2 separate regions of the Homo sapiens genome follow, and region 1 is linked to region 2. Evidence: fine-mapped QTL for protein levels in blood plasma. Region 2 holds a variant in brackets. A gene starts in the other region. All regions are shown on one strand. Distances are between the middles of the regions.

The links. A credible set is the group of variants that fine-mapping cannot tell apart. PIP is the chance, under the fine-mapping model, that this variant and not a neighbour inherited with it causes the effect. The UK Biobank Pharma Proteomics Project read protein levels with antibody pairs (Olink). The fine-mapping took linkage between variants from a reference panel, not from the people measured, so its PIPs are less certain.
Region 1: it holds the start of PRSS8, and the variant in region 2 is the best candidate, but not a certain one, in a credible set for the plasma level of the PRSS8 protein (UK Biobank, PIP 0.60).

The regions. Positions count from the first base shown.
Region 1 is chr16:31,129,808-31,141,111 of GRCh38, forward strand. It overlaps PRSS8 (serine protease 8), which reads right to left and starts at 5,920. Exons shown (of 6, transcript NM_002773.5): 1 at 5,607-5,920; 2 at 5,347-5,364; 3 at 3,419-3,581; 4 at 2,875-3,146; 5 at 2,622-2,788; 6 at 1,626-2,528. The coding sequence starts at 5,691. The coding sequence ends at 2,202. It overlaps KAT8 (lysine acetyltransferase 8), which reads left to right. Exons shown (of 11, transcript NM_032188.3): 7 at 210-350; 8 at 460-553; 9 at 649-799; 10 at 939-1,093; 11 at 1,388-1,552. The coding sequence ends at 1,452. It overlaps PRSS36 (serine protease 36), which reads right to left. Exons shown (of 15, transcript NM_173502.5): 13 at 10,685-10,950; 14 at 10,487-10,608; 15 at 9,119-9,609. The coding sequence ends at 9,331. RefSeq lists enhancers at 1-244, 2,141-3,086, 4,035-4,981, 8,669-9,362, 9,363-10,055 and 3 more.
Region 2 is chr16:358,802-370,105 of GRCh38, forward strand. MRPL28 (mitochondrial ribosomal protein L28) reads right to left here. Exons shown (of 6, transcript NM_006428.5): 2 at 11,130-11,304; 3 at 10,267-10,419; 4 at 9,700-9,834; 5 at 9,527-9,613; 6 at 8,168-8,981. The coding sequence ends at 8,874. Among named protein-coding and RNA genes, the nearest start is that of MRPL28, 6.1 kb to the right of the region's middle. RefSeq lists enhancers at 2,073-2,921, 2,922-3,769, 4,398-4,905, 4,906-5,412, 5,413-5,919. The variant G/A (reference allele first, on the strand shown) is at 6,516.

The sequences.
Region 1 (11,304 bases), 31 Mb after region 2:
ATCCAGCTCCACTGGCACCTCCGAAGTGCTGTTGCTCTCTCATTTCCAGTTCCCTGTTCGTCAGAGGCTGACCGAAGACTCCTTCCAGTGTGAAATCCTTCTGGCCTGGCGAGGCGCCCACTTCGCGTGGGCTGGTGCCGGCCGCTGGAACCAGCTGGGTGGGGCCTGTGCCTGCCCCCTGAGCCTGTCTCCCCCCTCCTCAACCCTAGATTTACTGTCAGAACCTGTGTCTGCTGGCCAAGCTTTTCCTGGACCATAAGACACTGTACTTTGACGTGGAGCCGTTCGTCTTTTACATCCTGACTGAGGTGGACCGGCAGGGGGCCCACATTGTTGGCTACTTCTCCAAGGTGCTGGGTCTGGAAACTCGGGGTGGGGAGGGTGGGGAGGGCGAAGGTGGGCATGAACAGAGAGTGGGGCAGAGCCTCCCCAGCGGCCCTGAGCACCTGCCTCCTGCAGGAGAAGGAGTCCCCGGATGGAAACAATGTGGCCTGCATCCTGACCTTGCCCCCCTACCAACGCCGCGGCTACGGGAAGTTCCTCATCGCTTTCAGTGAGTGGTTCCTGGCCTGTCTGGGAGGGGGAGACCTGTGGGGCAGGGGTGCCAGGGCAGGCTGGATCCTAAGTTCCTCTTTCTACTGCTGCCAGGTTATGAGCTCTCCAAGCTGGAGAGCACAGTCGGCTCCCCGGAGAAGCCACTGTCTGACCTGGGCAAGCTCAGCTACCGCAGCTACTGGTCCTGGGTGCTGCTAGAGATCCTGCGGGACTTCCGGGGCACACTGTCCATCAAGGACCTCAGGTGAGGGGGCCTCCCGGGCCCTGGGGGCAGGACTTGCCCTGAGATGGGCCACGATCCTGCTTCCTCATACCCTGTCACCATCCTGGCCAGATCCCACAAGGGCACCAGGTCTGGCATTTGCTCTCATCCCTTTTTGCAGCCAGATGACCAGTATCACCCAAAATGACATCATCAGTACCCTGCAATCCCTCAATATGGTCAAGTACTGGAAGGGCCAGCACGTGATCTGTGTCACACCCAAGCTGGTGGAGGAGCACCTCAAAAGTGCCCAGTATAAGAAACCACCCATCACAGGTGGGTGGGGGGCTGCTGTGTGTCGGGGGCGGTGGGGGAGTGTCAGTATATGGACTGGTAGGAGTCAAGGCCTCCTTATTGCTGTCACATGATCCCAAACCAGTCAGACCAGCTCCCAGGATGGAGCCCGGGGCAGGCCTCTCATTCCTGGGCTTCCCTACCCCTCCCCAGCACAGCCTGCCCTTTTGTTCTCACCTGGAGGAGGTGAAACTGGCCTGAGCCCAGAGGAGGGCAGCCAGGTGTGAGCTGGCCTGGCCCAGGCCCAGCCCTGCCTCCCGCCCCTTCTCCCCACAGTGGACTCCGTCTGCCTCAAGTGGGCACCCCCCAAGCACAAGCAAGTCAAGCTCTCCAAGAAGTGAGCAGCCTGGCCCCTGCTGTCGGACCTGAGCCTCCTGGCTCCCAGCCTGTAAATATGTATAGACCTGTTTTGTCATTTTTTTAATAAAGTCAGTTCTGGTGGCCCTGGACTTTGGAGGGGAAGGGGAGGCCAAGAGCGGATGTTCTTCATTTCACTTCACACATGCACGGCAAGTTGTGCTCAAACATTTTAATCATTTCTGCCCTGTTACTCCCACCCCAGATCCAAGCGCCAGCCCAGTTCCGGTGGGGGCTCAGTCCTCCGGAGTCCAGGAGTCAGGGCTCGGGGGCGCTCAGCGGCCAGTGGGCAAGATTGGGGCCTTTCCTGTCCTCGAAGCTGCACAAAGGTGGCCCCAGCCCAGAACACAGGGAGAGGGCAGAGAGATGTGCTCATCAGTCTGGGCAGGCGGGCCGGGAGCAGTCTTCCAGAAACAGGTGGGAGCCAGGGCTCATTTTCATAGCCAAGGGTCCCAGGAGCTCCCCAGGAGCTCGGCCAATGGGCTGGTCCATGGTGGGTGAGGGGCCAGAGGCTCTGGCCATTGCTACAGGCAGTAAAACTCCTGACTCTCAGTGATGGTCCCAAAAAGCACACCCAGAAGAATGGGCTCAAAGATCAAGATGGGGCCCCAGCCTCCCGCAGAGTCCTGAAGGAAGGAGTGGCTCAAGTCAGGCCCTGGGTCCAAAGGCCATCAGGGAAGGACCAGGCTCCTGTCCTTGAGTGTGATGCATCCATCCTGGAAGTAGGGCCAGCTCAGTGCTCGCTGAGCCATGGGGAGAGGAGGCCCAGAGCCAGGCCCAGAGGCAGGAAAAGGATGGGCCTCAGCAAGCCCTGGGCTGGGGCAGAGCTGAAGGCCAGGTGGCTGCCACAGAGGTTGCTGTCGGGCTGGGACTCCTGGGTTTGGGGCACCACACGAGGCTGGAGTTCTGTCACCTTGCTTTGGATCCAGGAGGCATAGCTGGAGGCCAGAGTGTACACACCAGGCCTGTTGCGGGCCCCACAGGCATCTCCCCAGCTCACAATGCCCGTCAGGTACCAGAGACCCTCCACAGGGCAGGAGAGTGGGCCCCCAGAGTCACCCTGAGGAGAGAAGCCACACAGCAGCCATCAGGACCGGGCCAGGCCTCCTTTCCGAAGTTGCACTGGTCATCTGCCCCCCGGGCCTGTGCTTACCTGGCAGGCGTCCTTGCCCCCCTCCACATAGCCAGCACACACCATGTCCTCTTGGACAAAGTGCGGCTCCTCAGGCTTGGCGTCGATGTTGTACAGGCAGTTACACGTCTCACGACTGATCAGAGGCACCTCGAGTTGCTGCAGTGGCTTGGGCGTCAGGAGGCTCACTGTGGGGGTAAAAGAGGCTTACCCTGGGCCCCTCCCCAAGTCAGGTGCCCCTCCACACCTCTAGGCACCCAGCGTCCCACCTCACCTGAGGGGGCCACATGACCCCAGCCAGTGACAGTGCAGTGGAGGCCGTTGGGGAAGGAGGCGTTGGCTGCAGGGAGGCAGATGGGCCGGATGTAGCGGGAGAAGGTGATGGGTCTGCTGAGTTGGAGGAGTGCAATGTCGCCCTGGGAGCCCTCCTGGAGGTAGCTGGGGTGGGGGATGATGTCCTTCAGGGTGCTGACCTTGGCGTCCTCGGAGTAGGAGTCTAGCTGGTGGGCCCCCAGCTTGACCTCATAGGCTTCCTTGTGGTGCTCGCTGCAGGCAGGGGGCAAAGGCTGAGACCCAGGAGACCTCTCCTTGTTCCCCAACCCCCACTGCCAACCCCTGATTCCGATCAGCCCCTTTTAGGTCTCAAATTGCACCTTAGTTTTATCATGTAACCTCTGACCCCTCACCTTCACTCCTAACTGGTCCTTCCAGACTTAGAACTGACACTCTCAGACCCAACCCAAGAACCCCAACCTCTGACCTGGATTGACCCATTAACTTTGACCTCCAGCCCACTTTTGACTTTCACCATTTGGTACCTGGGGAAGCAGTGAGCAGCTGACAGCACCCACTGCTCAGACACGAGAGAGCCACCACACACATGGACGCCTTCATAGGTGATGCTGACCTGCCAGGGCCACTGACCGGCGACTGCACTGCTGCCACCTGTGATGCGTGCTTGGGGGGCCACACCGCAGGGAGCTGCCCAGGGAGGAAGGGAAGGGGTCAGGTTGTTAGCCTGGCCACTCCTATGCAGCCCAGGAGCTCTGATATAGAGCTTGGGAAGTGGGTTCACAGGAGTCAACACCCCTTTGTCCCCTCCCAGGCATGGGCAGTTGTGCCCCTTCTGTCCACTACCCATTACCTAATTCAGGTCTCATGGCAGCTTCTCTCCTTGCAAGCCTTCCATCCATCCCGCCCCTTACAAGTCTGAAGATTTTCATAAACCCCCAATCTGACCAGGCCACAGCCCTGCTTAAACCCTTCTTGGCTCCACGCGGTCCTTAAGATACATTCCAGACAGACCATGGCACCGCCATCGGACCCAGCCGTCCCCTCTGGACCCTTCAGTTGTGTACATCAGGCCACACACTTGTTTACCCGGGACCTTGGCTGATCCAGGTCACTCTACCTGGTATGCCCTTCCCCATCCTTACTGTCTGGCAAACTTCCCTTTGCCTGTGGATGCTTGATTGGAACAGCAGCCCCTCCGTAGACAGGCGGGCTTCTGCTGGCTGAGTTGGGCATTGCCTCCGAGCCCAGCACCCCCCAACCTCCACCATGCTCCCCGATGCTGCCCAGTCTCACAATTGTTCCGGAGTCCACAACTGTGTCTGTTTCCACCACACCAATCTGGGCATTCCCTAGGGGCAGATTCTCATGTCTGCAGTGCCTGTGGCGTCGTGGACATATATTCAACAAACCAACAGCAGAACTGGGCTCCTGTGATGTGAATGTCTAGTTTCCAGGACAGCCCCAGCCCCACCCCCATTGAGGCCACTTTGGAGTGGAGCCCAACTGCTCTTCACAAAGTCATCTAGGAGCAGAGAAAATTGCAGACCAGATCTTTCTCTCCCTTATCATCATGACAATAGCCACTATTTAGAGAGCCTAGCGGCTGTGCCAGGCCCTGGAGGGGCTTTCGCTTCCTCATCTCCCTGCATCCTCTCCACAGCCCCAGGAGACGGACATGACCAGCTTCATTTTAGAGGTGAGGAGTCTAAGGCTTAGAGAAGTGGGGGGACTTGGCCAATGACACACAGCCAGTGCATGGGGAAGCCAGGATTGAAAGCCGGTCTGACTCAGAGCTGGGTTGGGTGCCTTCCAAGAAAGGAGACCCTTGGTTTGGTTCCCTCAAAACCACCTCCAGGATGGGAACGGTGGCTCACACCTGTAATCCCAGCACTTTGAGAGGCCAAGGCAGGAGGATCGCTTGAGCCCAGGAGTTCAAGACCTGCCCGGCCAACATAGTGAGACCCACATCTCTACCAAACAAAAACAAAAACAAAAACAAAACACAACTAGCTGGGTGTGATGGCATGCACCTGTAGTCCCAGCCACTAGGGAGGCTGAGGTGGGGAGGTGGGAGGATCACGTGAGCCCGGGAGGCTGGATCACTGAGACTGCAGTGAGCTGCGATCGGGCCACTGCACTCCAGCCTGGGTGACGACAGACCCAGACCCTGTTTCAAAAGACAAAAACCAAACCAAAAAAACCACCTCGATTGCCCCACTTTGGGAGTCAGACGTGGATCTGAATCCCAGCTGCACCTTCACTGGCAGTGTGCCCTGGGCAAGTCCCTGCTTCTCTGCCCATAAGGTGAGGGCTAAAACCCCCCACTCTGGGAGCCCTAAGAGAATCTAGTTGGAAGGCAGCCCAGCTGAAGGCCAGGCACTGGTTAAACCCCAGGGGAATCCGATCCAAGTCACCTCCCCCTCCCCTCCTCCCTCTCCGAGGAAAGTCTCACCTTCTGCCCCTTCCGCTCCTAGAAAGAAAGAGAAAGAGGAGGGGTGAGTAGGGAAGACTCGGGTTCCCTGACCCCTTAGTACCCACCACTGCTCCAGAGGGCTGGCCCCTTCCCTGACAGAGCCAAGGTGGGAAAGAGAGGCCAAGAGCTAGGGAGGCCGGGGGTTTTCTTGGGCCCCAGACAAGGGCACACCCCAGAAAATGATCACGCCGGCTCCCTCCAGTGCATTGTCCCCACCCTGCCCCCACGTCCTCACTTACCTGTCCCCGACCGGAGTAATCCAAGATAGAGCAGAATGGCCACAGCCCCCAGCTGCCCAGGCCCCAGGACCCCCTTCTGGGCCATGGCCCAGGACAAGGGCCCCTGGGGCAGACTCCAGGCACGCAAGGTAGGAAGCCTTGGGGTGGTGTCGAAGGCAGGACCCAGATGTTGGCTCAGAGGGAAGGATCCCAGAATCCGGGCTGGAAAGGGGCAGCAAGTGTCCAAGGCTGGCCTCTAAGGCAGGGAGCGGCCGCAACGGGAGACGCCTGGAGTATCCGAAGCGAGCAGTGTGGACGAGTCACCAGCACCGTCTGGCCACGCAGGGTCCTCCCAGGAGTGGCTGCACCTACCTGCCCGCCCCTCCCCTGGCCCCGCCCACTGGCTGGGCTCCGCCAGCTCCTCTTGCCACCAAAGTCATGAGTCCTTTCAGAGCTGCAGGCCCGTGTGTGTGCATGTATGTGTCCGTGTGTATGTGTGTGCACATGCATAGGCCTTTTGTGTGTGTGTCCCGGTGTGTAGTGTGTATGTGGTGTGTGTGTATGCCTGTGTAGGCTGTGTGTGTCCTCTTATGTGGTGTGGTATGTGTGTGTGTGTGCATGTACAGGCTGTATGTGCACATGTGTAGGCTGTGTGTGTCCCTGTGTGTGTAGTGTGTGTGTCTGAGTGTGCGTGCATGCACGTGCATGTGGTTTGTGTGTGTGTGCAGTCTCCCTGGAATGTGACGACTCTCCTCCGCCTCAGGTCTTTCAGGTTATCTCAGGCCAGTTATGCCCCCCAGGGCCTGGCCCCAGCTTTTATTATCTGGAGCCACAGCCACTCCTCCCTTCTTCCCTCCCTCCTTAGGCTGGTTATGGGAGCTTAAGACACTATGGTCTGTCCCCTGCCAGGCCCTTTCTGCGATGCCTGCACCTCATGGGTGGTGGCGAGCTTGTGGAGCAGCACCAATCATCCCACAGACATTTCCTAAGTGCCTATGATGTTCCCAGGTGTCCAGGACAAAACAGGCACCAGCCCCGTCCCCCTTGAGCCCTGAGCTCATGGTGAAGTAGGGGTGACACACTTCAATCAAATAATCACAAACAGGCTGGCAAGGTGGCTAGTCGGCTTTGGGAGGCTGAGGCTGGAGCATCACTTGAAGCCAGGAGTTCCAGACCAGCCTGGGGAATATAGCGAGGCCTCATCTCTACAAAGAAATATAAAAATTAGGCAGGCATTGTGGCGCATGCCTATGGTTCCAGCTATTTGGGAGGCTGAGGCAGGAGGATTGCTTGAGCCCAGGAGTTCAACGAAGCATTGAGCTATGATCACGCCACTGCACTCCAGCCTGGGCAACAGAGGGAGACCCTGTCTTAAAAAAAAAAATTGCAATTACACAATAATTTCAAGCTAGGAATAGTGATGAAAAAGAATGGCGTGAGCACACCACAGCCTGGCAAAGGCTGGCATTGTGAAAGGGTCCTCGAGGAATTGCCTTGGAAACTGAGACCGAAAGGGATTATAAAAGGTGGTAAGGCGAAGATGGGGGGATGGGGTGCAGAGGGCAGAGGCTCAGGGAAAGAAGGCTTGCCGTGTGGCTGCGGTGGGAGTGAGGCATGTATCCTCCTTGAGGGCCACTCTGGCCGTTCAAAACACCTGTTGAGGCTGGGTGTGGTGGCTCACGCCTCTAATCTCGGCACTTTGGGAGGCCAAGGCACACGAATCACGAGGTCAGGAGTTTGAGACCATCCTGAACAACATGGTGAAACCCCATTTCTACTAAAAATACAAAAATTAGCCAGGCGTGGTAGCACGCACCTGTAATTCCAGCTACTCAGGAGGCTGAGGCAGGAGAATCGCTTGAACCCAGGAGGTGGAGGTTGCAGTGAGCCGAGATATTGCGCCATTGCACTCCAGCCTGAGCGACAGAGCGAGACTCCGTCTCAAAAAACAAACAAACAAAAAAAATTGTGGAGCTTGGATGTGGTGGCTCACACCTATAATCCCAGCACTTTGTGAGGCCAAGGTGGGAGGATCATTCTCAAGATCAGGAGTTTGAGACCAGCTTGGCCAACATGGTAAAACCCCGTCTCTCCTAAAAAATACAAAGAAAATTAGCCAGGCGTGGTGGCGCATACCTGTAATCTTAGCTACTCGGGAGGCTGAGGCAGGAGAATTGCTTGAACCTGGGAAGCCAAGATTGTGCCACTGCACTCCAGCCTGGGCAACAGAGGGAGACTCCATCTCAAAATAAATAAATAAATAAAATAAATAGGCCAGATGCAGTGGCTCACGCCTGTAAATCCCAGCACTTTGGGAGGCTGAGGTGGGCGGATCATCTGAGGTCAGGAGTTCAAGACCAGCCTGGCCAACATAGAGACACCCCACCTCTACTAAAAATACAAAAATTAGTTGGGCATGGTGGTGGGCACCTGTAATCCCAGCTTCTCAGGAGGCTGAGGCAGGAGAATTGCTTGAACCTGGGAGGTGAAGGTTGTAGTGAGCCGAGATTGCGCCATTGAACTCCAGTGTGGGCGACAATAGCAAAACTCTGTCTCAAAAAATTAAAAATAAATAAGTTAAATAAAAATACAAAAATTAGTCCGGCATGGTGTCTTGAGTCTGCAATCCTAGTTACTTGAGTCTGAGGCAGGAGGATCGCTTGAACCCAGGAGGTGGAGGTTGCAGTGAGCCGAGATTGCACCACTGCACTCCAGCCTGAGCATCAGTATGAGACTCTGTCTCAAAAAAAAAAAAGTGGAGATGGGGGTCTTGCTTTGTTGCCCGGGCTGGTCTGGAATGCCTGGCCTCAAGCGATCCTCCCAAAGTGCTGGGATTACAGGCATGAGCTGCCGCACCTCGTCTCTGGTTTTGCGTTACTTTTTAATTGTAGATTCATTGGCTGGAAACCACCTTCCCTTTTTCTGTGCTCAAACATCACTGCTATGACATCTTCCCAATCCCAGCCAGGGATGTCCACATGTGTCCCCACTAGATTGGGAGGACTTTGTGGGCTTATATATCAGACCCCAATTGTGCCACGACTTAGTAGCCACCAGGGAACACGGGTTGAATGAATGCAGGGAGGTGCAGGTAAGCAGTGGGTAAGGGAGTGAGGTTCACATATAAGGGACCCAAGTTCTGGGCAGAATGTGAAAGTGGCAGACCCTTGAAGGGCCCAAGTGTTGTGTGTGTGCAGGGGATACATCGGAGCATTGTGCATTGAGGTGTGTCTATGGCGGGCAGCGAGGGCAGCGGGTCTGAGCAGGGGATGAGATGTCCAGCACGTGCCGAGGGTGCTGACTCCACTGGGCAGGTGACACACAGCCAGCTGGCCACCCGACTTCCCTGCCCTGGGACAGGAATGAAGGAATCGCTGCCAGGTTATCAGGGTACATTTCCTGAGAGCCCAAGGCCTGACTCAGAGGCCGGAGGAGGGAGGAGGGAGGGGACCTCCCCCTTGGGCTTCCCGCTTAGCCTCTGATGCCCAGCCCCTCAGCCTGCCCACGGCGATGCCACAAGGCCACACAGGTACCTGTGTTTACACCTTTATTGTCCGCTCCTCCCACCACCCCCAAGGATTCCTGGGTTCAAAATAGCCCGGGCACTGAGGCCCAATTAGCCAGAGCCGCTGCAATCTCGGTGGGTGGGGCCCTTGAGGTTCCAGCCGGCTGGGCCACATTCCAGCCCCACTGGGCGGGAAGTAGAGGGTGGAGAAGGGGGAAGTGGTGCTGGGACCCTAGCCCCTCAGCTCTGGATCAGGAGAGTCAGCAGGAGCAGGAAGTAGACTGCATGCGGGGATCCCGAGGCCTTGGCCAGTTCTGGGGGGCAGAGATTGCTGCCTCCAGTGGGCCAGTGTGGGGAGCCACTGGGGGGCAGGAAGTTGGCCTCTCCCACTGTCTGGGAGATCCAGGCCTCTTCAGGACCAATGGCAGCAAACAGCTCCCGGCTCCCTTGAACAGCCATGCCCACGAGGATCCAGGACCCTTCCGTCATCTGGCACAGGAGGGGCGGTGCTGAGGTCATCTGCAGAGTTGGAGCGAGGCCACGTGGGTCTGCTGCCCTTCCTCTTGGTCCCCTCCCCCTTTCCCCAGGGTCTGGCCACGAAGCACTCTGGTCTGCATCCCTAGACATCCAGGTCCCTGGTTTCTCTCCCGGGTCCAGCTAGGGTCCCATTTGGGGCCAAATACCCAATAATTCCAATCCTGGCCAGGTGCAGTGGCTCACACCTCTAATCCCAACCCTTTGGGAAGCCAAGGTGGGCGGATCATTTGAGGTGAGGAGTTTGAGTCCAGCTTGGCCAACATGGTGAAACCCTGTCTCTACTAAAAATACAAAAATTAACCAGGTGTGGTGGTGCATGCTTGTAATCCCAGCTACTAGGGAGGCTGAGGCAGGAGAATCTCTTGAACCTGGGAGGTGGAGGTTGCAGTGAGCCAAGATCACACCACTGCACTCCAGCCTGGGTACCAGAGCGAGACTCAGTCTCAAAAAAAAAAAAAAAAAAAAAAAAAAATTCCTTGGCCGGGCGCAGTGGCTCACACCTCTAATCCCAGCACTTTGGGAGGCCGAGGCCGGCGGATCACGAGATCAGATCAAGACCATCCTGGCTCACACAGTGAAACCCCGTCTCTACTAAAAATACAAAAAATTAGCCGGGCGTAGTAGCGGGTGCCTGTAGTCCCAGCTACTCGGGAGGCTGAGGCAGGAGAATGGCATGAACCAGGGAGGTGGAGCTTGCAGTGAGCCGAGATCGCGCCACTGCACTCCAGCTGGGGGACAGAGTGAGACTCTGTCTCAAAAAAAAAAAAAAAAAAAAATTCCAATTCTGCTATCTCTCTAGGGTACAGTAGTCCAACACTGCCTCTCCCCTGCCTACTCCAGGACGCCCAGGCCCCTGTACCTCACACCTGTTCTCCTGCCCCTCTGCATACAGGACACAGAGGGTTCCAGGGGGCAGGATGCCCTGATAGAGGCAGTCACAGATTCGTTGTGTCAAGATGGAGACAGCAGCAGCCACAGGGACTGGGGAGAGGAGACAAAGTTGTTCCAGGGCTCTGGCCTCCAGCTACTCCTCGTTCCCGTGACCCAGGGGTCTCACCTCGGTCCTGGGGTTCTTTCCAGCCCAACACCCAGCAGCTGGCCCCCGGGGGGATACCCGCCGGGTGGAGACAGATGGGCAGGGCTGATGGGGAGGGCTCCACCCGGGAGCTCAGCTCCAGGAGGGCCAGGGGGGGCCTGAGTCCCAGGTGCTGGGGCAGCCGGATGCTGATGACCAAGCGGGATACCTGGTGGCCCTGTGGGAGGGAGCTGGCCCCTGCCCGGCCCAGATACACTTCAATGTAAGGCACTGTTGTAGAGCCTGGCCTGTTGGAACAAGGTCCAATGTCACCTTCTGCTCCTCCCATTGCTGGCAAAGTCCTTCCCAGCCCAGGGGAAGGATGACTCTCTGGGGTCATGCCACTCACTCCTTCATCATCCCTCCTTCCAAATCTCCCTTCTAGGTCAAAACATCTCCCAGTGCTGTAAGATTCTTCCCTCATGCCCCACCCCAGACAGAGTCTTGCTCTGTCGCTCCGACTGGAGTGCAGTGGCGCAATCTTGGCTCACTGCAACCTCTGCCCTCCCTGGGTTCAAGCGATTCTCCTGCCTCAGCCTCCCACGTAGCTGGGGTTACAGGCGCCTGCCACCACCCCTGGCTAATTTTTGTATTTTTAGTAG
Region 2 (11,304 bases):
AACGTGGTGAAACCCCATCTCTACTAAAAATGCAAAAAATTAGCCAGGTATGGTGGCAGGCCCCTGTAATCTCGGCTACTGGGGAGGTTGGGGCAGGAGAATCACTTGAACCCAGGAGACAGAGGTTGCAGTGAGCCAAGATTGTGCCAAGGCACTCCAGCCTGGGCAACAGAGTGAGACTCCATCTCAAAAAAAAAAAAAAAAAAGAAAAAGAAATGAAACGGCTGCTGTGGCCACAGTGCTTGGTCCCCGCTGGCTCCGGGTCCATACTTGTCCCCTGGGGCAGGCCCCAGACCTGCCGTCACCCACGTCGCCTGCGCCCAGCCCCGTCCAGCAGACCTGACAGTCCCCACATCCCCGCTGGCCTCCAGGGGTCAAGGGTCAGGACGCCAAGGCCAACAGGAAAGCACTGGCAACAGGGCGGGGGCCTGGCCAGCCAGGCGGCCCAGAGGCGGTCCCCTCCATCCCAGGGTACTGTCCACACCTCCCAGTGTCCTGAGGGGAGTCCTCCTGCACTGCCTTTCTGAAGAGTTCTGACCCCAGGGTGTCCAGGGGCTGGGACTGGGGCCAGGTGGATACCAGGATGTGGTCAAGTAGGCCTGCCTGGAGGGTCCGGCCGCAGGGGCTGGGGAAGTAGGAGGGGAGGGCGGCCACCACTTCCCAACTCGGGAGCTGCTGACATCAGGGGACTGTTGGGCCTGGCCTGGCACCTGCCTCCCAGGAGACCTGAGTGCCCATCCTTGTCTTGGGCCAGCCTGTAGCCCTAGGCAAAGCAGGCACCTCCTTGTGCCAGTGTCCCCCTGGGCAAAGTGATCGTCCTGACCTGGCCTCACAGCCCCAGAGGTCCGTGTGTGACCCTCTCTGACAGGCCGGGTGGCGGGATGGAGCCCACGGCTGGCCATGGACCAGGTCTGGTGTCCCAGGCACATTGTGAGCACAGGGCAGGGCCTGCTGGCCTCCCCCAACCTCAGTGCTGTTTTCCCAAAAAGAGGTGGCATCCAAGTGCAGGGGCCATGCCCCGAGGGGCCTCGCGCTGACTTCGGGAAGTAGCAGGTGACGTCCCACCTCCCTGGGCAGCCTCAGGCCGCTTCCTGTCCTTGTTGGGGGGACTCCTGCCCCTGCCACACCGACCACAGTCCTTGTCCCTGCTGTTCCCTCACCTGAACGCCCTTCCCTGCCCTGACGGCCTCCATCCCACACGCCTCTCCGGGCGCTGCCGCCCCCCCGTTGGTGCTCATCTGTCCTTCTGCCCACTATCCCCAGCGGCCCCGATACCTGCACACCCCAGTGCCCAGCGGTTCCCCCTCGAGCTGGCAAGGGGACATTAAATGGGAGGTGAGGAAGTGCGGCCCCCAGCGGGCAGCTGCCTTTGCCCCGGCCCACCTGCGCCCCCGCCCACCTGTGCCCTCCGCCGCCTCCCTCTGCTTGGCTGTCCCAAGATGTCTCTCTCCACTGCCTAGGAACCCTGAGGCCGCGGCCAAGTTCTGAGCGTGTGACTGTGTGTGCTGGGCCCCAGGCCCCTTTGTCGCCGCGGCGTCTGTCGTGGCAAACAAAAGTGAACCGGATTAGCCACAGTGGATTAAAAGATTTACGTCTCAGAGTTTACCTAATAACCTAACAATCGTGTCAACGGGAGCTTTGAACCCCCAGGGCGCGCCTGCCAGGCCAACTGAGAGCTCAAGGCCTCTGTGGGCAGCAGGACGTGGTCGGGGGGAGGAGACGCAGCCACGGCTGTCCTCACACCCAGCTCGGCCCCTGCGGGCTCCTCTGGGCAGAACCTGGGGAAGGCACGGCCTCTAGCAGGAGGTGGAGGCCTTTGAAAGGGTGCAGGTGTTGGGACCAGGTACCCGGCCCAGGCCCCCAGCCGCGTCCACACACGTCGCACACGGCAGCAAGGACGCAAGCAGTGTGGAGGTGGCCGCGTCGGCGACGTATGGGCCCCGTGGTGCTGCGGTGCACGACCTCTGTGCTGTCACCCCACAGTGTCCGCTCCTGCACGTACACGCGTGCACGCGCACACACGTGCACACGCACACACACACAAGCACGCCCCGCTTTGATCTCTAAAGGAGAGTCCATTGACAAGCTCTTAATCGCAGCTGCCCTTGCAGGGCCTGTCCCTGAAGTCCCGAGTAATGGGATTTGGCGCTTCTGATCCATCGGGCTGGCCGCTTCCCGTGTCATAGGTGGACATTTTTTTTCTTTATATCGCTTCTGTTTCTTTTTTTTTTTTCTCCTCGAAAAAATGCTGCTTAAACGGCACCGACTTGACATGGCTTGTCTCCTAACCTTGGAGTGGCGGCCGGGACGCCGGCCTGGATCAGTCGGGGGTCTTTGATGCCGCCTCCATGTGAAACCTGACGTGGAAGACCCACCGGGGCGGTTTTGGGGTCCGAGGTCCGTCAGGATTCATCCTGCCTCACCCTGCTCCCTTTGTCTCTTCCCCTGACCCTTCCTCGGGACACCCGGAGAGGGTCTGAGGGTGAGGGTGCGGGCGCTGCGTGTGGGCTTGCACTCGAGGGTGGGGTGGGCCGAGGGCAGGGCCGCAGCCGCGAGAACAATGGGCAGAGGAGGCGCGTCCACCTGTCCGCCCGGCCGCCTGCCCGGCTTACCTCACCTGCCTGGCTCCGTGTGCCTGCTCACGCCCCACCGTCCCGCTGTCCGCCATGATGGGCTTGGCCGTCCGTCCGAGCACTTTCAGCCACTCTGGGAAGCAGGTCCCTGCTCTTGGCCACTGTGTGGCTGGGAGGCAGAAGCGTGACTCTGGGCTGCAGCTCGGGCTCCTGCCGCCGATTGGCTGAGGCAGGGACCAGATGACGGGCCTCAGAACCCTATGGTAGCCATGGCAACCAGCCCCTTTAGACACCGCCACCCCCGAGCCACTCCTGACTGCTGAGGGAGCAGGCGGCACTGCCCGTGGGCCCATGCCAGGGTCCCCTTGGAGGAACGAGGTGGGCATGGCTGCATGGTAGCTGTCCCCACAACAGCTGTTAAGCGTTTCCGTGTGTTTCATTCATGTCCAGTGTGTGGGGTCCTTGCCCCTCTCCTGGCCTGTCCGGGGCCACTCTGTGCCCTGCCTTACCCCCAGCAGAGGCAGAAGCACTGGCCTTGCAGCCCCTGCTGAGAGGAGGACTTCAGGTCAGGCTTGCCTCAGGGGCTGAAGGCCAGGCCCAGTCTGGTGGGAAAATAAAGGGTGGGAGCAGTGGAAGCGGGAGCAGGGAGAACTTCCCAGCCCCACTGGGCAGAGCCAAGCTCTCGCCCACCTCAGACGGCAAAGGCTGCCAGCTTTCTCTCCGCCCACAGTCCACTCCGCCACCCTCTCGTTAGCTGCGGCCTGTGGAATACGTGCACGTGCTCACACAGTCCCGTCTCACAAGCCCCCTGAGGCCCCTCCCGAGGCCTTGCTCCCTGGACCTTGGGTTCCCACTGGGCAGGACTCTGGGTCTTTGGCCACACTGAGGAGACCGTCTCGCCATCAGTCACACACCTGCGGCTGCACCCGCTCTCCCCTGGGCTGCAGTGCCCTCTTGCGTCCCAAGAACGCCTCTTCCCTCCAGGGCGCACCAGCATTGGCCCCTGGCAAAGCTTTCCCGTATGTCTGGAGACGAGGCTTCTCAACCGTCACCCGTGGACATCCTGGGCACTGCAGGGCACTGAGCATCCCCGGAACCACCCCCTGCCCCCAGCCCCGTGACAGCCAGAAACAGTGTTGGCTTGTCCACGCGCTCTGACAGCAGCACTGCCTGGCCAAGACCCCTTCGAAGGCTTCCCCTAAGCCCGGGAAGCTGAGTCCCACTTCCTGGCCCAGGCCCAGCACCCGATGAGCAGAATCTGGTGATGAACAGCTGCAGGACTGCAAGGAGCAAGCGAGAGCCTTGGGCTGCTGCAGCCCAGGGAGGCCACTACCAAGGCCATCAGAGGGACCCGGGATCCAGGGGAGCCTGGAGCATGGTCCATGGGGATCCACCTTCAAGAGAGCGACTTCGGGGCCAGTCCCAGGGAACCGGGCTTGGCATGGGCCTGGGCGCCGGGGGTCTCGGGCCGCGGCTGCTCCCCCAGGACTCTGGGCGCCGGGGGTCTCGGGCCGCGGCTGCTCCCCCAGGACTCTGGGCGCCGGGGGTCTCGGGCCGCGGCTGCTCCCCCAGGACTCTGGGCGCCGGGGGTCTCGGGCCGCGGCTGCTCCCCCAGGACTCTGGGTCCGGATCCAAGCTTCTTCGCACTGGCCTGGTTGTGAGCCGCCTGTCCCAGGATGGAACCCGGCCTTGAAGCCCTTCCCATGCCATGCTCAGAGCTACCAGCTTGTCTGGGGACAGGATGTGGGTAGGGACACCATCCCAGGACAGCAGGCAGTGGTTAGGGAGGATGGTCCAAGGCTGGAGCCCGCCTAGGGAGGGCTGCGGGGCGCTGCGGCAGAGGGAGCCAGGACCGCACGGGAGCCCAGGCTGCTGGGTGTGGCCATGTGGCCAGGGTTCCAGCTTGGGTGGCTGGTGGGTGTCAGAGGGACAGGGACTCAAGGGAGCCTGGGAGCCCCACACAATCCAGCCCGTGCCTGGGGCCAGCAGAGGGCTGGAGTTACAGACGGGCACTGGTGAGAGGGCGAGGGCGGCCAAGGACTGAAGGTGGAGGCGGAGCCCTAAGCAGGCCCGCGGGACACACAGTGGTCTCCCGGCAGCTCCCTTGGGCTCCCAGCACCCTGACGGGGGCACAGGACAGGAGCAGAGTTGCCAAGCGACCCAGAGGGCCCGCCCGCTCTCCATGCCCTTCCCTCCACTATCCTGCTGCTCTGTGCACCTGAGCAGGACTCAGGAAGCAGGCGAGACCCTTGGGGTCAGGGGTCAGACATGGACTTGTGACTGGGTGCCTCAGGCCAGCCTCACATCCACTCCACCCTACCCTTCCTGGCCTTGGCTTCCCCGTCTCTATGTGGAGTGATGGGGTCACTGACACCCCTTCCAGTCCTCCAGTTTTCTACCCCCAAGGGATCCCTGCCCATAGCCGTGAGGGTCCACCCCGGAGTCCACCCTCAGGTCCACAGCCCATTCTCTGCCCGACACCGCGGCTGACTGTTGTCATGGAAACACATGGCCTCTGCCAAGCCTGGGACACGCGTGGGGAACTCCTGGCCCCTGAGGGCTCCGAGAGGCTGGGGCTGGTGCAGGCCGGCCCAGGGCAGCTCTGCCTCCTGTGGGGTTGATCTTGCTCTGCACAGATCCCTCTCCCACTCCAGGTGCCTGAGGGTCTGCACGCCTCAGTGAGGGAGAACTGGCCGTTCTCAGAGACGGAGTCCAACACTTCAGGAAGGAGCCTGACAGGTGTGATTGGTGAGGATGGCAGAAGGAGGGTCTGGTGGCCCCAGCCCGGCCTGGCTCTGGAAGGGGTGGGGTGGGCATAGGGAGGGCAGGGAAGGGGTGGGGTGGGCGCGGGGAGGGCGGGGTGGGCGTGGGGAGGGCGGGGAGGGCGGGGAGGGGTGGCCAGCAGCCATTCCCAGGTTGGCTGCCCGGGCTCCCAGCTCAGTTCTCAGTTCCCCACACACATGTTGGAGCCGGTACAGTCCCTGGGACCCCTCCCCACAACCCAGAAGGCAGAATAGCATGCTGGATCCAGCTGCTGGGTCTGTCCCAGACCTGAGTCACGGTTTGGTCTTGAGGGATGGGTCCGGCATTTACGGAAGGCCTCTTACCTTTTTCTCAGTCAAGGACTTTTGTGGCCTCTGACCAGAAAGTTGTCAGGGCCCTGGCCACACCCAGACCCCACCTCAGTCTGGCCTGGCCTCCCCTGCGGGAGGACTAAACAGCCATGGGTTCCATCGAGGTGACTGGCAGAGGAGGTAACCTGCTGAGGCCAAATGCAGCTTCTCCCACTGGCCAGCTGGTAGCCTGGTCCCAAACCCACAACCCTGAGTCAACACAAGTCAGGACACACTGATAAGCACGTGCCACCATGGCCGACAGGGGGACCGAGGCCAGCGCCTACCAGCCCATTGCCAAGCCTGGCCCCTAACTTCTTGGGGCCCCCAGAGTCTGACCCAGGAAGCCCTACAGGCCTTGGCAGGAGCCCTGCTTACCGTGGGGCTTGGTTGGGGTGGGAAAGAGCAGGTGGTGAGTGAGGGGCAGCCACCGAGGCCTGAGTTGGGAGGTGCTGGACACACACACCATCAGGGAGTCAGGGGCAGGCCGAGGGGCTGGAGGGGGCTTGGCTTAAGTTCACAGCTGAACACGGGAACTGTGCAGGGCAGGGCGTGGCCACAACATCCCAACTCTGGCTAGAGCTGGGGCACGGAACAGCACTCATGCTGTGGGCAGCTGGGCTGAGCCTCATGGCCCCACAGAGCTGACTGAGCACTGTCTGTTTTTCATAAAGTGTTTTTTTTTTGAGACAGAGTTTTGCTCTTGTTGCCCAGGTGGAGTGCAATGGTGCAATCGTGGCTCACTGCAACCTCCACCTCCCGGGTTCAAGCAATTCGCCTGCTTCAGCCTCCCAAGTAGCTGGGATTACAGGTGTGCGCCACCACACCC[G/A]GCTAAATTTTTGTATTTAGTAGAGATGGGGGTTTCACTATGTTGTCCAGACTAGTCTTGAACTGCTAACCTCAGGTGATCTGCCTGCCTCAGCCTCCCAAAGTGCTGGGATTATAGGTGTAAGCCACAGTGCCCGGTATGATTTTTATTTATTTTTTTGAGACGGTGTCTCGCTCTGTCGCCCAGGCTAGAGTGCAGTGGTGCGATCTCCACTCACTGTAACCTCCACCTCCCGGGTTCATGCCATTCTCCTGCCTCAGCCTCCCGAGTAGCTGGGACTACAGGCACCTGCCACCATGCCCAGCTAACTTTTTTGTATTTTTAGTAGAGATGGGGTTTCACCGTGTTAGGTCTCGATTTCCTGACCTCGTGATCCGCCCGCCTCGGCCTCCCAAAATGCTGGGATTACAGGCGTGAGCCACTGCGCCCGGCCTTTTTTTTTTTCTTTTTGAGACAGAGTCTCGCTCTGTCACCCAAGCTGGAGTACAGTGGTGCAATCTCAGCTCACTGCAAGCTCTGCCTTCCAGGTTCAAGCGATTCTCCTCCCTCAGCCTCCCGTGTAGCTGAGATCACAGGCATGTGTCAACATGCCTAGCTAATTTTTTGTATTTTTAGTAGAGATGGGGTTTCACCGTGTTGGCCAGGATGGTCTCTATCTCCTGACCTCGTGATCCACCCGCCTCGGCCTCCCAAAGTGCTCGGATTACAGGTGTGAGCCACCGTGCCTGGCCTAAAATTTTTTTCAAGGTCGTTCACAGAGCAGGGGCATCACATGAAGGCACTGGTGTGGGGAGCAGCAGGACATGTCGGCAGAGGTGCCCGGTGTGGAAAGAGACCTCGGGGGCCCTCCCAGGGCTCTGAACCAGGCAGGTCCTGACCCCAGGGACCCCTTGCGGCCCCGGGAGCCACGTGCTCCCCTGCAGTCCAGCAGGGCCAACTGCAGACTCCCTCTGGACTCTGCCACAGCCCCCTTGGGAGCCAGGGGCCCCTCAATCAGCCAGCAGGCCCACGTCAGGCAGCTGCCTCCAGTTCACCCCATCCTGCCACCAGCTGGGGCTGGCTTAGGCTCAGGGGACATAAACCCCCCCTTGTCATTCTGCACATGCAGCTGGGGGAGCCCTCCCTCTGTGCTCCCTGGGAAAACCGAATGGGTCCGGAGGATCAGGATTTCCAGGTAAGGGTTGGGGGAGAGGGTCAGGTACCCCCAAAACCTCAGGGCGGGAAATGCCTTAGGGTGCACAGCCCGGCTTCCCGCTGGCCAAACCTCCACCCTGCAGGTCAGGTGGAGGTAGCAGGAGGGGACACCAAGGTCGCAGGTCCCCAAGTTCGTGTCGCCCCCACCTCCTCTACCACTCGCCACAACAGTGCTGACCAGGGAGAGGCTCCTGACTCAGGCAGCTGCACCAGCACGGCCCTCTGAGGGCCTGCCCCTCCTGGTTCCTTCCAGTACCTGCAGAGCCAGACCACAGCCTCCCTTGCCCTGCTCTGAAGAATGTTCGAGAAGGGCAGGAATGTGCAATGGAGAGGGAATGGGCATCATCCGGCTGCACCCCTGGATGCCCCCAGCTACACCAGACCCTCTACCAGAGGAAAGAAAGACACAGAATACGGCCAGGGGAGGTGGCTCACGCCTGTAATCCCAACACTTTGGCAGGTTGAGGCAGGTGGGTCACCTGAGGTCAGGAGTTCAAGCCCAGCCTGGCCAACATGGTGAAACCCCTTCTCTACTAAAATACAATTAGCCATACATGATAGCGGGGTGCCTGTAATCCCAGCTACTCAGGAGGCTGAGACAGGACAATCACTTGAACTCTGGAGGTGGAGGTTGTAGTGAGTCCAGATCGTGCCACTGCACTCCAGCCTGGGTGACTGAGCAAGACTCCGTCTCAAAAAAAGAAAAGAAAAAAAAACACAAAACACAGAATTGAACCTCGCTCTCTGCAGCTCACCGGGGGACGGGCACAGCCAGAGTCAATGCCCACGGCTCATCCGAGGTCTCAGGGGCAGCAAGGGCAGGGGTGACAGGATCAGGATCCCCAAAGAGAACACCAGTCCTCAAAGCAAAGATACACACACACAGCCTGGCCCAGACTTTACTCGCTCCCGGCCCCACGGGCACAAGGAACACTGCCGCAAACGTCGGGGCCCAGCCTGAGAGGAGCCTCTGGGCGGCCCAGGCCTCCTGGGGATCCCTGCCAAGCTGGCCCCGGGCTGGAAGGTGCATGGGCAGCACACGAAACCAGGATCCACCCACTGCCCACCGGTGGCCCTCACAGCTCCCCGGGATCTGTGTCCTCAGTGCAAAGGGCCTGGCAGGGAAAGCTGGGCCTGTTGGTCAGGCATGGAGGAGCTGTGTGGTCACTGGCCACTGGCTCTCTTCTGCACCACCGCCGGCTCTGACAGTGCCTGCTGCTGCAGCTGCTGGATCAGCTCCGCCACATAGATCTTGAACAGGGGTACAGGGTCCTGAAGGAGAGAGGGGCTCATGGTGAGGCCAGGGAAGCCCAGGGCAGCTGGAGTTCCGACGGGGATGGGATCAGCAGCTGCCGCCCAGAGGAACCGGGGCATGAGAGGCCCTGGAGGGCAGAGTCCTGTCGGTGAGATGAGGAACCCCCTCCCTTGGGGATGCCGGAGGCACACACATACCCCTGTCCCATCCCTGTGGTCATGGATAAACAGAGGGAATAGGGGCAGCCAGCTGCCATGCCATCAGGGGCTCCCTGTCCTGACAGCTACCTCAGGCTCCAGACCCTGGGATGCTGGTGGCCGAGCAAACCCTCAGTGCAGGAACCCACTCCTCCTACTGAGGGTCCTGGGACAGAACAGGGTGGGGACTTGGAGGGGAGGGAGCGGGCCATGCTCCTCTGGGTGGGCAATGCAGAGCAGCAGCTCTTCCCCAAGCCCACCCAGTGCACCAGCCCCTTGTGCAGGCTCTCTCCAAGGCAGCACACTCCCAGACCCTGAACACCAGGCTCTGGGCAGGCAGCATCGGCTGGTGCTCACACACTCACCTTCTCCTCCAAAAGTCTCTGCTTCTCAATGGCCTCCTCCAGCGTGAGGCCCACCCACTCTGCCTCCTCCTCTGGGATGGCAAATTCCTAGGCAGGCAGAGATGGAAAGGGCAGTGAGGCCCAGGGCCGGGCCACGAGTCCCCAGGTGTAGGGAGCGGGACGGAAACCCTCACCTTGTACTTGTCGTAGATGGCTGCCCGCCGCTCGGGGTCCTCGGGGTGCAGCTGGGGGTCCTGCCGGGCAAGCCGCAGCAGCATCCCTCGCTTCAGGTCCATCCCAAACTTGGAGCACAGGTCCTCCTTCGGGGTCTGGCAGAAGGCTCACATGGGGCCAGGTGCTGGTGGCAGGGCCCCACCTACCCTTCCAGCCAACCCACCTGGCTCCTCTCTAGCCGCTGGTGGTCCCAGGACAGGACAGAGAAGGCCCGGGTGGGGCCGCCTCAGCACCCCAGCCTGGGGGGTGGGATCAGCACAGAAGCAAGTCCAAGTGCAGGGAAAGGGGCGGCTGTGCTCGCTCAGGCCCCACGGGCAAGTCAGCCACCCACAGAGCGACAGCCTCTCCTGAAGGCAGGAAACCCCACTGGTGCTGGCCAGAAAGGGGCATGGCCCCACTCACGCTTTCCCAGTGACCCTCCTGTGCAGATGTCAGCGTGCCCCGGTGTGATGCTGACCTGGGGCTCCCGTGAGTCTGACTGGCCCATCCCAGACCCTGTGTGCACTGACTCGCCCCACCCCGCTTGCCTTGAGGATGTAAAAGTCGAGCCCATAAGCCTCATCGATGAGGTCCAGGGTCCGCATGGTCACAGTCACTGTGAACTTCTTGTCCAGGATCTCACTGTAGAACTCTCGCTCAAACAGCTGTGGCTTCCACACTTTCTTCAGCCTCTTGGAGAGCTGAGGGTGCAACAGAGCCTCCATGAGTACTGCTGCTTTCTCTTACATACCAAGGGGGGCCCAGGCAACTGCCCTCACCTCCCCCCCGGAGGCTCCATCACAGAACCACTGCTGTCAGACTGGGGACCTAGAGCTAACTGGGCCGGCCCCCAGCCCAGTGCCGCCCCAGCCCGACCCGGGTCCTGACTGTGTACCCAGAAGTCAGCTGCTCCCCAACAAGCTGGGCGTTCCCGCCCTGGTCACATGGTTGCTGCATGTGTTTCAGAAACATGTGCGACCCCACAGTTTACAGGTTGTCACATTCCAACCTGGAGGTGACACAAGTCTCCCCACAGGCTTCAGCAGTCCCGCCAGGAAGTCCACCACAAGCAGCCTCGAAGCTCTGCTCGCCTCCCCCACCTGCTCTGCTCGCCTCTCCCACCTGCTCTGCTCATCACACAGGCCTCCTCCCCATCCTAACTTTACCCCGACTCCCCACGGCCTCTGGTTGCTCCCCCGGCCTGAGTCACCCCACCTCACCCCTACTTTATCAGTCCTGTTTGCCAGAACTGCGGTTCTTCACTCAGCGTGCTCCTTTGCCGGAGATGTGTCGCCTCCAGGCTGTAATCCCCAGGGCCCACCCAGGTCTCTCCAGGTACCCCGGGCGTCCGGCACAGAGCCGGCACAGCCAAGCCCTGAGAGGAGCCCCTGAAGGCCGCCTGCGGACCCACCTTGTCGTTGTTGGCATATATTTGGCCCAGGATCCAGCCCTCGCCGCCCCACAACCCCCGCTGGGATTCGGGGGGAAAGTAGATGGGAATGGGCACGTCCTCCACACGCTCCCGCTGCCCGTTCTTGGGGTTGATCTTGAACTTGGCCCCATGAGGCCTATAGTGCACGGGAGTG